Regions from separate parts of the Homo sapiens genome. Here region 1 is linked to region 2. The links come from fine-mapping of genetic effects on gene expression. Tissue or cell type: whole blood. Region 2 holds a variant in brackets; the other region holds the start of a gene. All regions are shown on one strand. Distances are between the middles of the regions.

Region 1 (5,322 bases), 120 kb after region 2:
AGTTTGAGAAACAGAAGATTCACCTTTTCTTTTATCCCTGCATCAGCTGAAAAAGCCCTGCATATTTCTCTTCAGAACATACCAACGATGCCTCACTAATGCAACTATTTTTTTTAAAAAAAACCACATATCTGAACAGTATAGTCAAAATCAACTATGAATTATCAGTTCTACTTTCCTATTTTTAGCACAACTTTAGTTTATCAGAAACCTAAAACATGACTTTTCTTTAAAACAAGAAAATTTTCAAAACTACAAACCTTCATATATTCAGCCCTTCACCAGAAGCCCAGAAAAAAATTCATAATTTTTGAACAACAAGCAAATCATGCTTATTTTCCTCAAAATACTACTTAGGTTTTAAGAACCTTCTGATGTGCATCTGCCAAATGTGGCTGATTTCAGTCTCAGACAGGGAAATCTAAAAGGCTACCACAGGGTTACTGTTTTTGGTAAGGGGAAGTCGATGCCAGGAGGAACTTCTCTATTGATTACAGCAATGACCACCATTTATTAAGCACTTCTTAGCTCTCCTGGTGCAGTGCTAGGAGTTTGGCAAACATCCTATTTGTCCTCAGAAATAATCTTGCAGAGCAAACACCACCATCCCCAAAACCAGATGTGTAAAATGAGGCTCAGGTGAAGAATAACTTGCCCAAGATCACTGAATTAAATGTGGCAGAATCAAGTCTAATGAATGGCAAGGGTGAGAACTGGTCAGTTTCACAGAGAATTAGGCCTTCATCATACAAATGCCGCCTGCACAAAAACTAAATGAGAAACAGTGAACCCTTGCTGTAGGGAGAAAAAGCAATATTCCGAACTAAAAAAGTAGTTTCAAACAGAAGATCTAATGATAAACACATTTGTAAAGTCTGAGCAGGGAGGAAAAGGATTACTCAAATTACTCAAGTACAGCCCTATGGGGCTCCTTCACTTCTGTGTTCTTAAAATCTAATCTGGTTTAAGAGCGCATGGGCTCCGAGTAAAACTCTCCCAAATTCCTCCAGGCTTAACCACCCTCTACTCAAAAGAACCAGGAGCAGGAGTTAGGACAATGGGAAGTGACCGCCCTGCCCTGCCCTGCCGGTCCTCCCTCCGGGTCAGCTGTCAGATCCGCATGGGTGCGACTATAAGCCGGCACCGGAGCCCCGGGACTGGCTCGGCCAGGGTCCCCGCCTTTTCACTCCCAGTCCCGGCCCTGTCGGCCACCTCGTTTACCACCTCCAGAGGCACAAATAATTATACCGGAAGAATTTGTTTTAACAAGTAGAATTCTATATTCACCAACTGGCTTCGCTATCGGATATTACGGTAGGGTTCCAACAAGAGAAGGGCAAAAGAATATAGTTTAATTGTTCTAAACAATCTTTCTGAGAAGTTGGGGTGGCTGAGGCGGCCACGGGGATACAGCTCAGGCACCTGTGAGCTAAGCCCACTCTACAAACTAACCACCCCTACGTTTTGGGCAGAAGAGCGCCGCCTCGCCAACCCAGGTTATAAATGTACATATTTTTAAAGATGAGCTTTGACGCTGTGACACTTGTGGGGAGTCTCCCGACGGCTCCTCTACTTGATGGGGGTACAGGGAGTTCTGCGGCTCCCCAGCCCCGAGTTTCAAATACCGTGGCCTGGAAATTAACCGGGTGACTCGGTTTATTGCCTCCAGAAGGGTCCGCCTGCCGTGCTGGAGTAGCCGCCAGTCCCGCGCCCGCAGCCCCGGCAGGGCCCCCCACGCCCACCTTCCCACGAGGGGTGTCTCGTAGAGTCCGGCTTCAGGCGCTCCCTGGCCTGGCAGCACCCACCCCACCCCGCCCCACCCCACCCCCACGACTCGGGCTAGCAGCCTGGTTAATCATTCAACGCAAACAGTGTGGAATATTTTTTTTAAAAGGTCAAAGCGAAAGGTTTTCCCTAAGTTTGGCAGAAACCAGTTTTGGGGGAGCCGGAGACAGAAGTGGCAGAGGTTGGGGGTGGGGGGTGGGGAGCGGCTGCCGGCGGCTCTTTGGCTCACAAAACACCTGATCTCCCCATGCGGCACGGGAGGCCGGCGCAGTGCGAGGGTGGGGTGCGGGGGTGCGAGCGAGGAATCACGCGCGCCCCCCTCCCCGAAATGCCCGCGCGCCCCGGATGAGGAGGCCCGGCCCCAGATGCCCCTTGCCAAAGCCCGCATCGCCCCGGCGCCGGATCCCCCGGAAGTTGGGGTGCAGCGAGGAGGGGGAAGGTCCCCGGGCTCCAGGGCGAGGTGGGCACGGAATGGGTTGGGAGGTTCCAAAGCCCCGCAGCGGGCGGTGTCCCTCTCCTCTCCCTCTGGGCTGAGGTTGGGTGGCTGGGACGGCGGGAAGGTAAGGGAGGCTTAAATGCGGCAGGAGCCACCTAGGGACGGCTTCCTCCACCGGGGCGCGGGTACGAAGCCGGAACCGGCGAGGAACCGGGCGGGGGTAGCAGGGTGTCCGGAAGGTGGGGCCGGGAAGCAGGGAGGCGGAAGGGGACTGGTAGAGGGGCCTGGCGGTGAGAGGGCAGCGGGGAGGGAGCCGGCGGGGGTGCTCGGCGCCCGGGCCCTACCTTGTCCGGGAGCAGCTCCAGCTCGGCGGGGCGGGGGCAAGGGCGGGAGATCGCGGCCACATCCACGTCCCGGCCGCTCCGCGCGGCTCAGCCCGGCGACCGCCGCAGCTCACGCTCCATGCGCGGCGCCCCGGACGGGCGGCCCGGCGGTGTCGGCGGCAGGGACTGCTCCGGCTTGGCTCTGCTAGCCTCCGGCACTTGTTGCCGCTGCTGCCGCTGCCGCTGCGCCTCACTCCAGGCTCCGGTTCCAGGCGCAGCAGCCGCCGCGGGCGCCCGGCCCCGCCCCTCCCCTGCCCGCCCGCCAATGGGGCCCGGCCCCGCCCCTCACGTCACCGCCCGACGGCCCCGCCCCGCGCCCCAAGTTTTGGGAGGGTTCCGCTCTCCCCACCCGGTACCAGGACCCACCCGGGCCCGCGCTCCCTGCGGCTTCCAGGGACCCTCCAGCCCCCACGCACCCTCCTGCAAAGCCGAGGGTTAAGCTGGGGAAAGGGGGCCTCTAGGAAGGCGACCCCCCTGGAAATGCCTGGCAGCTCCAAAAACACTAATGAAACTCAGCTCCAGCCTCCGCCCCTCCAGTTGTGGGTGGCCCCTCTTGCGGTTCGTCTGAGGCTAGGGGACTAGGCGCATCGCCTAGCGAGACTCCAGTGGCCTTTTCTGTCCAGTTTGTAACCGGAACTAGACCGACCCCGGCCGCCCCCTCCAGTGCTGGGGCGGGTGAGGAATGGCCCCGCCGGGGAGGCGGGGGAGGGAGGCCTGGGCCACCCTGGGGTCTGACCTTTGCTCCACCTCTTAGGTGCTCACGACCCAGAGTGGTGCCCTGCTTGGTACTGCCACTGGATCCTCTGGCTTATGAAGCCGTCCAGGACAGGAAGGGTGGGGGGTGGTCCTTAGTTCTCTTCGTGGGGTCATGCAGAGTGGTTTCCTCGAGGTCCCACGCCCGTCTCAGGAAGCCAGAAACGCAAGATGCCGGGCGCTCGGCCCGAACCCGTGCCGCGGCCCAAGGGGCAAGGCGGATACCGAGGCAAGGCCTAAAGGGCCGGACTCTGACCGCACCCTCCGGACACTGCAGGGCTCCGCCGGCCAGAGGCGGCCTTGGCGCCAACCACACCTAGCAGCGGGGTCCCCGGGCCCACCGATGCGCCCTCCTAGCCCCGCGCTCCTTCGAGGGGTTCCAAGGTGACTCAGAGACGCAGCTGACACAATTCTGAGGCCCCCAGGTAAGCCTGGCGATACCGGATGGAGAAGTTACCTGGTCTTGAAAGGCCCAGTCCAGCCAGCGAGACCCGCGTGCGCTCCGCGGGGAGGCAAGCCTAACCAGGGGCTCACCTGGAAGCGTCCCCGCCCCCTGGTCCTTATCTCTGAATCGAAACCGAACCTGGACCCATCTAGATAATTGGACTGAGCAATTAAGGACGCTTCGCTCCTAACTGTTAGCATTTTTTCCTAAGGCTCTCGGAGGCGGAATCAGCTGGAAAGGAACATTGCTAAGTAGGAATTTCAGGCACCTGTGAACTGAGCCCACTCAATAATCGGCCCTTTCCCTTAACCAAACTCAGCAAAGGAAGAAAGACCAAGTTGCTGCGGATGCACAGAGCCACGTGGGTGCGGGTCCTCTAGAAACAGGAATTCAGAGTCAGTAGATATGGAAATGTTATGGTTTGCAGTCTTCGGACCATGCTGCTTTCATGCTGTTCACATGATTCTCCTCGGACTGCGAGGTAAAGTCCAAGAAACAAGTCGAATGTTTGTATTTTCATAGAAAAAACATCTGTAAGGGTGCACACCGACTGTTAACCACGGTTACGCGGGGAGGGGAAACAAGGGAGTTACATTTTTTTACTCCCTTGACTTTGGATTTTGTATTTTTCCAGTTGTATTTACTTTCATAATTTAGAAAGCTAATAAAACATGTTTAAAGAAACAGAAGCTAGAAATTCTCTAAGAACTCTAGGAAGTAGAGGCCGGGCGCGGTGGCTCACGCCTGTAATCCCAGCACTTTGGGAGGCCGAGGCGGGTGGATCACAAGGTCAGGAGTTCGAGACCTGTCTGGCCAACATGGTGAAACCCTGTTTCTACTAAAAATACAAAAATTAATGGTGACATGTACCTGTAATCCCAGCCACTTGGGAGGCTGAGGCAGGACAATCGCCGAACTCAGGGAGGCGGAGGTTGCAGTAAGCCGAAATCGTGCCACTGTACTCCAGCCTGGGTGACAGAGTGAGACTCTGTCTCAAAAAAAAAAAAAGAACTCTAGGGAGTATAAATTAATAAATGAAGTCTATGTCTTCATTCTGTATCAAAATAATATTGAGTCCATGTTCCTGGGTTTAAATAAAGATATCTCTAGGCTGCTGTCTGATATTTAAATGCAGTGTTGAGACAAAGCGGACATCTAAGGAAGATTTTCTGTGCCATCAGATTGGTATATTGTTTCCATGCATATGTGTCTTCCCTTTAAATGCACTCCCTGTAGCCACAGACATGCTTGCAAGAACGGCCAGCCAAGGAGTTTATAGTAAAGGAGCTGCTACAATGTCAGCTGGCAACCAACTAGGAAATTAAGCTTGTGTCCCTCGCTGCCCAAGGCTGCCCAGGCCATGAAATTTAAAAATAAGGGTATTCTTAGGCCAGGCACGGTGGCTCATGCCTGTAATCCCAGTACCTTGGGAGGCCAAGGTGGGCGGATCACTTGAGGTCAGGAGTTCAAGACCACCCTGGCCAACATGGTAAAACCCCGTCTCTACAAAAAATACAAAA
Region 2 (7,611 bases):
CCAGAAGGTTTTCCTACCCCTGTTTTCCCAGGAGAAGTCAGCTTTTGCTTTGACTCTTATCCCAGAAGCAGTGGATCTTTGCCCTTGCCAGTGTAGAATGAGAGTTTCCTACTGTTTCCCAAAGGCAGCCAGACTCTGCTTCTACACCTGTGGCTCTGGGGTGGAAACTGTTTGCTGCCATTCTTCTAGCTGCTTGATGCTTTTACTTGATGAAAGAGGAGTCTTTGGAAGTGAGTCCCCACCCACTTCTTGGCTACACCCTGGCGTAGGGTTGCCTGCATCATCTTGAATGCCTGCACCATCAAGCATGGGGCTCTTGCCCTATCCCCATTTTTTCTCATGAGCACCTAGTGGAGGCCCATGGAAAAGGGCTTGTAGTGACAAACTCCCCTTCTCTCTGGGGCTCCCAGTCATTCTAAACTGATACGCGCCGGGTGCAGTGTCTCACGCCTGTAATCCCAGCACCTTGGGAGGCTGAGGCAGGCAGATCACTTGAGGTCAGGAGTCTTGAGACCAGCCTGGCCAACATGGTGAAACCCTGTTTCTACTAAAAATACAAAAATTAGCCAGGCATGGTGGTGCAGGCCTGTAATCCCAGCTACTTGGGAGGCTGAGGCATGAGAATGACTAGAACCTGGGAGGAGGAGGTTGCAGTGAGCCAAGATTGCACCACTGCATTCCAGCCTGGGTGACAGAGCAAGACTCTGTCTCAAAAATAAATTAATAAATAAACTGAATGCTAATCCATACTTAGTCTTCGGGAATCCAAGACATTTGAGTTCCTTCCTTTTTACCAACACCGGTGGTGGCCACTTCCTTCTGTTCTCTGCCAAAGACAGGACCCCCCTCATGGTATCCAAGCTGTGCAGTCACACAGTGCCCTGTGCTCAGAAGTTCCCCATATTTTTCACTGGGTCCTATAAATCTGTAAATGATGTAGCCAGTCCTGGGCAAAGGTAAAATAGCCCCTGTTCCCTATTTCTTCTCACGGGGGATAGTTACTCTTTGGAATTCAGTTCATTTCATTGCCTTGCGACCTCAGCTCTCTGACGAGTTCAAGAAAAGGTATGATTTGTAGATTATACGTCTTTTTCTCACCGTTTGGATGGGAGTTCTGTTCTTTTTTTTTTTTTTTTTTTTTTTTTGAGGTGGAGTCTTGCTCTGTCACCCAGGCTGGAGTGCAGTGGCACGATCTCAGCTCACTGCAAGCTCCGCCTCCCGGGTTCATGCCATTCTCCTGCCTCAGCCTCCCAAGTAGCTTGGACTACAGGCGCCCGCCACCATGCCCAGCTAATTTTTTATATTTTTAGTAGAGACGGGGTTTCACCGTGTTAGCCGGGATGGTCTCGATCTCCTGACCTTGTGATCCACCTGCCTCGGCCTCCCAAAGTGCTGGGATTACAGGCGTGAGCCACTGCACCCGGCCTGAGGAGTTCTGTTCTTTATTCATCTGCATCCTAAGCAAAAACAGCCTCTTTCTGTTAGAAATTATTTGAGGCCTCAAAGGGAGGTAACAGTGCTATGTTGTCTGCAGATTCCCTGCCAGGGATAAGTTGGTGATGGACAAGTGATTATCCCTGGGTGGTGTGACTCTTTTTTCTACTTTTTATTTGATTATATTATCCCAAATTACTTTTACAATGAGCAATCCCTGCTTGATTAAAAACAACTAGAGCATCAAACTTTGAAGCATCCCTTTTAAACTTTTTTTTGTTTTGTTTTGTTTTGTTTTTTAGTGACAGTGAAATGATCCCTCAGAGTTCCTTCCCTAGACTCACTGGAGAAAACAGCATATCCAGGGGCACAAAGTGATATTATACAGAAGGCACAGACAACAAATTAACAGAACTCTGCTGCTCTAGGACATAGCTCCTTCAATTCCTGGCCTTTGGATCAGGTGACAGAAGGGCCACTCTCTAAATATCTCCTTCCAGTACCATCATTTCTGCACTGGCTAGTAAGGACCAAATGTGGCCCCTGTTCCTTTCCTCCCATTCTGCTTTTGGGTAGTGGCTGCTTCCTGCTGAGACAGCATGTTTTTGGGCACTCCCTCTGGGAACATGGCATAAGAGGGAGTCAGAAGCCTTCCTCTCATCTCTGCCTCCAAGTCTATCACCTTAGACAAGTCGCTGATCCTCTCCAAGCCTCAGTTTTTTTTTTCATCTAAAAAATAAAGGTAAGCACGATAACCACCCCCACTGGGTTTTTTTTAAGGAGGACCAAATGTGATGATGTTTTAAAAAAGTATTTTACAAGCTGTAAAGAACCCTCATTATTCATCTTGGTAAGCAACTTATACCTGGGAGTAGAATGGGGTAGGGGACAGATGGAAATGGGTCCTCACGTTCACTTTCAGAGCTCATATTTTGGAGCAAAACTTGGAGATAATAGTATCTGACTCTTCTCTTGTCTTTTAACCACCACTCCCCTACACCCTGGTGAAACCTCAGTGTGTGGGTGTGGTTGCAGGGGCAGGCTATCTCTGTGGTCACAATACTCAGGGGGCCTCCTTCCTTCCTGCTACCTTCTCCCTGGCTGAGTGGGCATGTGTGTTGGGGAGAGCTTCTACTACCATCAAATAGAACCTATTAAGTACCTGGCAAGTGTTTCTCTGCTAGCTGGACACTAATCCTTTTCTGCAAGGGAGGGACCCCTTAATAGCCATCACTAGGACATCTTCTCTGCCCTTGCCAACGCAGCTGCTGCTTCATGATCTCCCTGGAACAGGAGGGAACTTCCCCCCCAAACAGAAGGTGTGCCCCATTACAAGGCCACAGAAATAAACTCCCTCTGCAGCTTCTCAACTAAATGGGGACTCCCAGATGGTAAGGCCCAAGTTCCAGGAGAAGCACAGCCAGGTTATCCCATGACAGGGAGCTGTCCACTACTGGCTGGTGGGCGATAGGGCACATCTGAAAAGGTGATTCTCTTTGACTAACTGCTCTTCATGGCATACAGCCTAGCAACTTGACCATTGATATTTCCTTTTTTCCTAGCATGGCTTTCTTTTATTTTATTAATTTATTTCAAAATTATATGTATCTGAACACCTGTGAACACATCTGTCAACCCAAGATCTAATTTTTTTTTTTTTGAGACAGGGTTTCACTGGTACCAAGGGGAGTGGCACAATCACGGCTCACTGCAACCTTGACCTCTTCAGGTTCAGGTGATCCTCCCACCTCAAGTAGCTATAGCTGGGACTATAGGTGCACCTGTAACAGGTGCACCAAGCTCAACTAATTTTTTAAATTTTTATTATTTTTGTAGAGACGAGGTCTCCCTGTGTTGCCCAGGCTGGTCTCAAACTCCTGGGCTCAAGTGATCTACCAGCCTTGGCCTCCCAAATGCTGGGATTACAGGCATGAGCCACTGCACCTGGCCTAAAATATCAACAATAACTTACATTTACCTGTGTGCTTCCCTTTACCCCTTTACTTCCATTTTGTCCTAATAATTTTCTTCCTTTAAAAAATAGTTAAATTAGTGTTATCCTTAATTAATGTTTAATTAATGTTAAATTATATTTGATTAACGTAATGCTTAATAAATGTTTAGTTTTAGTTGTTTTTAAACTTGTTAGAGGGCCAGCCACAGAGGCTCACACCTATAATCCCAGCACTTTTGGGGGCCAAGGTGGGAGGATCGCTTGAGCCCAGGAGTTAGAGACTAGCCTGGGCAACATGGCAAGAACCCATCTTTACAAAAAAATACAAAAATTAGCTGGGCATGGTGGCATGTGCCTGCTGTCCCAGCTGCTCAGAAGGCTGAGGCGGGAGGATCACTTGAGCCTGGGAAGTGGAGGTTGCAGTGAGCCGAGGTTGTACCACTTCACTCCAGCCTGGGTGACAGAGTTAGACCCTGTCTCAAAAAATAAATAAATGAAGAACACTTGATAGAAAGGTATTATGTTATAGGTAGTCTATATATAATTATATTGTAAGAACAGTGTAGCATGTAGTTATAGTTCATTGCTTTAATTGTGTAATATTCTACAGTGTGAATATTTCAATTTGCTTATTCATTTACCTGTCAGTGGACATTTGGGATGTTTCTGGTTTGATTTTGTTTGTTTTTGCTGATATCTACAGAGCTCCTAAGGGTATTCTAATAGATATATCTTGATGCACACATTGGGTCATAGAGAATGTGAATATTCAATTTTATAATATAGTTAATATAGTCAATAATAGTCAATAATAATAATAAAATGTATCAATCTGTTCTCTTTTTGGTTGGTACTTTTTTGTACCTAATTTAAGAATTCTTCCCCTCTTTTTAAATATTTTTTAGCGACAGGTCTTGTTCTCTTACTCAGGCTTCAGTGCAGTGGCTCAATC[G/A]TAGCTCACTGCAGCCTGGAACTCCTGGGCTCAAGCAATCCTCCTACCTCAGTCTCCTGAGTAGCTGGGACTACAGGCACATGCCACCACACCCAGACAATTTAAAACATTTTTTTATAGAGACAGGGTCTGCTTTGTTGCCCAGACTAGTCTCAAAATCCTGGCCTCAAGTGATCCCTCTACCTTGGCCTCCAAGAATGTTAGAATTACAGGTGTGAGCCACCGTGCCTGGCCTCTTCCCTTCTTTAGTCCAAGAAAGACAGTCCTCTATCTTTTCTACCAAGATAAACAATGAAGACATGCTTTGACATTGCCCAGTTTCATTTTTCTCCATATGGATGTTTTCCTAGCTTCAGTTATTGAATAGTTCCTCTTTTATCTCCTAATATGATATAGCGATTGATATTTTAACCATAACTTCACATTGATTCTTCATAGAAGAAAAAATTTCACTCATAATCTTAATAAAACATTATGTTGACATATACCTTTAAAACATATCAATTAATTACTTTTTTTTTTTTTTTTGAGACGGAGTCTCGCTCTGTCTCCCAGTCTGGAGTGCAGTGGTGCGGTCTCCGCTCACTGCAAGCTCCGCCTCTCGGGTTCACGCCATTGTGCTGCCTCAGCCTCCCAAGTAGCTGGGACTACAGACGCCCGCCACCACGCCCGGCTAATTTTTTTTTTTTTTTTAAGTAGAGACGGGGTTTCACCGTATTAGCCAGGATGGTCTCGATCTCCTGACCTCGTGATCCACCCGCCTCGGCCTCCCAAAGTTCTGGGATTACAGGCGTGAGCCACCGCGCCCGGCCTTTTTTTTTTTTTTTTTTAAACTGAAAAGTGATCACTTCTGTAGAATATATTTCCTACTGGCTATGCCCTCCTTGGCTTCACCCATGGCATTGGGCAAGTACCTGGTTGGCCCATTGCACTTCAGTGCAGAGCCTGGAGCCAGAAGGGAGGCCCTGCCATTGGTCAGCAGGGCAGCTCGCCTCACAGCTTCATTTGGACAAGAGTCGCAGACAAGCTCAAGGGTCTAGGGGAACCAGGTTTGGAGATGTTAGACTGGGAATGGGCTAGCTCAGAATCAATCTGAATGATATGACATTGTTACAGGCTGGGTTGAATTATGTTCCCCCAAAGGATATATGCTGGCCCCCAAACCTGTGAATGTGGCCTTATTTGGGAATAGTCTTTGCAGATGCAATCAAGTTAGGATAAAGTCATACTCAACTAGAGTGGTCCCTAATCCAATGACTGGTGTCCCTATAAGAAGAGGAAAGTTTGGACACAAATACACAGGGAAAAGACCTCATAAAGATGGAGGTAGAAATGAATATGATGGGTCTACAAGGCAAGAAACGCCAAGGAATGCCAGGAACGATAAGAAGCTAGAAGAGGCAAGGAAGTGTTAAAGCAAACTATATATGTCCTGAGAAGGACTCTGTACTTCTATATTTGAGTCCTTGTGGATGAACTGTAACCTAGCTTAATAGTCAGACAAAATTGAAAACCTAATTTAGGAGTATGCGCCTGTAACAATAACTAAGTCTTGGCCAATCCCAGAGGCTATACTTCAACCATTCATACTCTGCTGAGTGTTCAAACTACGTTCAAATAAGGCAAACACTGAGCTGTAACCAATCCGGTCATTCTGTACCTCACTTCCAATTTCTGTACATCATTTCCCTTTGTCTATAAATCTTCTTCCACCATGTAGCTGCGCCGGAGTCTCTGTGAATACGCTTGATTTGGGGGCTGTCCGATTCACAAATTGTTCATTTAATTAAACTCAATTAAACTCTTAAATGTAATTCAGCTGAAGTTTTTCTTTTTTCAGAAGGCCCCTCTCCTAGAGACTCTAGAGAGAGCATGGCCCTGCCACCACCTTGATTTCTGACTTCTAACCTCCAGAATTGTAAGAGAATAGATTTCTGTCATTTTAAGCCACAGTTTGTGGTACTAACACAGACACCTTCTCCTCTGCCAAAAATAATAATTCATGTGATGGGATAAAAATGACTGGCGAGTTCCCAACCTTTCCCACCCCCATGGCCCCTAATGAGGGTCCTGGTTACACTCTCCTCAGTTCCTCCTGGAGCCCACCCTCCAAGGAAGGAGCCCCGCCCTGCCAGCCATTTGTGAGATAAAAATCAGAGGAAACGGAAACTGAGAGCCAGACCGGGAGCCCCTGCAGCAAGTGAGAGCCATGTGTGGGAGAAGACGGAGGGGGACGTGCAAGAAGAACTGTGCCTCTCACATGGCCACCGTGAGAATCGAGTGCAGTCTAACGAAGGACTACGTTCACTTATCGGTGTGAGAAACACACGTGAAAGACTTGAGTTATTTTGAAATCACGTTTTGTTTCATGGTCTTTTGACCGCATCGCAGCTCCAGCACAGAGCTGAGCCACGTGGACCGAGGCTCTGTGAGCTTTCCTCTCCTCCCCATCACTGAATGCTTTCTGCCCTCCAGGCCCCTGCTAAGTGCTTGGCAGACTCCTCTCCTGTCCTCACAGCAACTCTAGAAGGACAGTGCTGTTTTAGATGACAAAACTGAAGCCTCACAGCAAACCTCAGTGAAATAGCCAAGGTCTAAAAGCTCAGATTACCTCATGCCTAGCTCAGAACTATTAGAATAATAATTGAAGCAGCAAGGAGCCTTGAGGCGACACCTAGAAGCTGGCAACCAACCCTACTACTGGTCTATGCTCTTGGGACAGCCTTGCCTCCTGGGATAATGGCAGCTCTGTTACCCTCCAGGAGATAGAGAATGGTGTGTTTCTGGCATTGAGGCCTAGCCAGGCCAGGGTGGGCAGAGGTGGCTGCTATACAATGGGCTCTGGAGCCAGACCGACAGGGTTCCCCCCAGCTCTGCCACTCTCTAGCTATATGGGCATGTTATCTGACCTCCCTGGGCCTCTGTTTCCTCATCTGCAAAATGGGGATAATAATAGTTGCCACCTCAGAGGGCAGTTGTGAGGATTAAGTGAATTAATACAGTATGTGACATGCTTAGAACAGCACTGGACACAGTAAGCCCTTAATAAAAGCTAGCTCTTGTGATTATTGAAAAACATGATGCTCTACTCAGATCTGACAAGACCTTAGCTACAAAAAATATAAATCATCAAGCAGACTGTCTGATATGTGTATTTTTATTAAGTGTAAGAATGAACCTCGGCTGGGTGCAGTGGCTCACGCCTGTAATCCCAGCACTTTGGGGAGGCCAAGTTGGGCAGATCACTTGAGATCAGGAGTTCGAGACCAGC

Evidence for each region. PIP is the estimated chance that this variant, and not a neighbour inherited with it, causes the effect.
Region 1: B3GNT2 starts here. The variant in region 2 is fine-mapped to the expression of B3GNT2 in whole blood (INTERVAL, PIP 0.97).

Annotation. Positions count from the first base shown.
Region 1 is chr2:62,193,599-62,198,920 of GRCh38, reverse strand. B3GNT2 (UDP-GlcNAc:betaGal beta-1,3-N-acetylglucosaminyltransferase 2) reads right to left here and starts at 2,806. Exons shown (of 2, transcript NM_006577.6): 1 at 2,566-2,806. It overlaps LOC124906013 (a long non-coding RNA gene), which reads left to right and starts at 2,908. Exons shown (of 2, transcript XR_007086336.1): 1 at 2,908-3,782; 2 at 4,014-4,932. RefSeq lists enhancers at 1,411-1,520, 2,501-3,107, 3,714-4,321 and silencers at 1,931-2,280, 2,461-2,900, 3,191-3,420.
Region 2 is chr2:62,308,911-62,316,521 of GRCh38, reverse strand. No RefSeq gene overlaps it. Among named protein-coding and RNA genes, the nearest start is that of MIR5192, 110 kb to the right of the region's middle. RefSeq lists enhancers at 2,609-2,708, 2,769-2,818, 6,255-6,624. The variant G/A (reference allele first, on the strand shown) is at 4,341.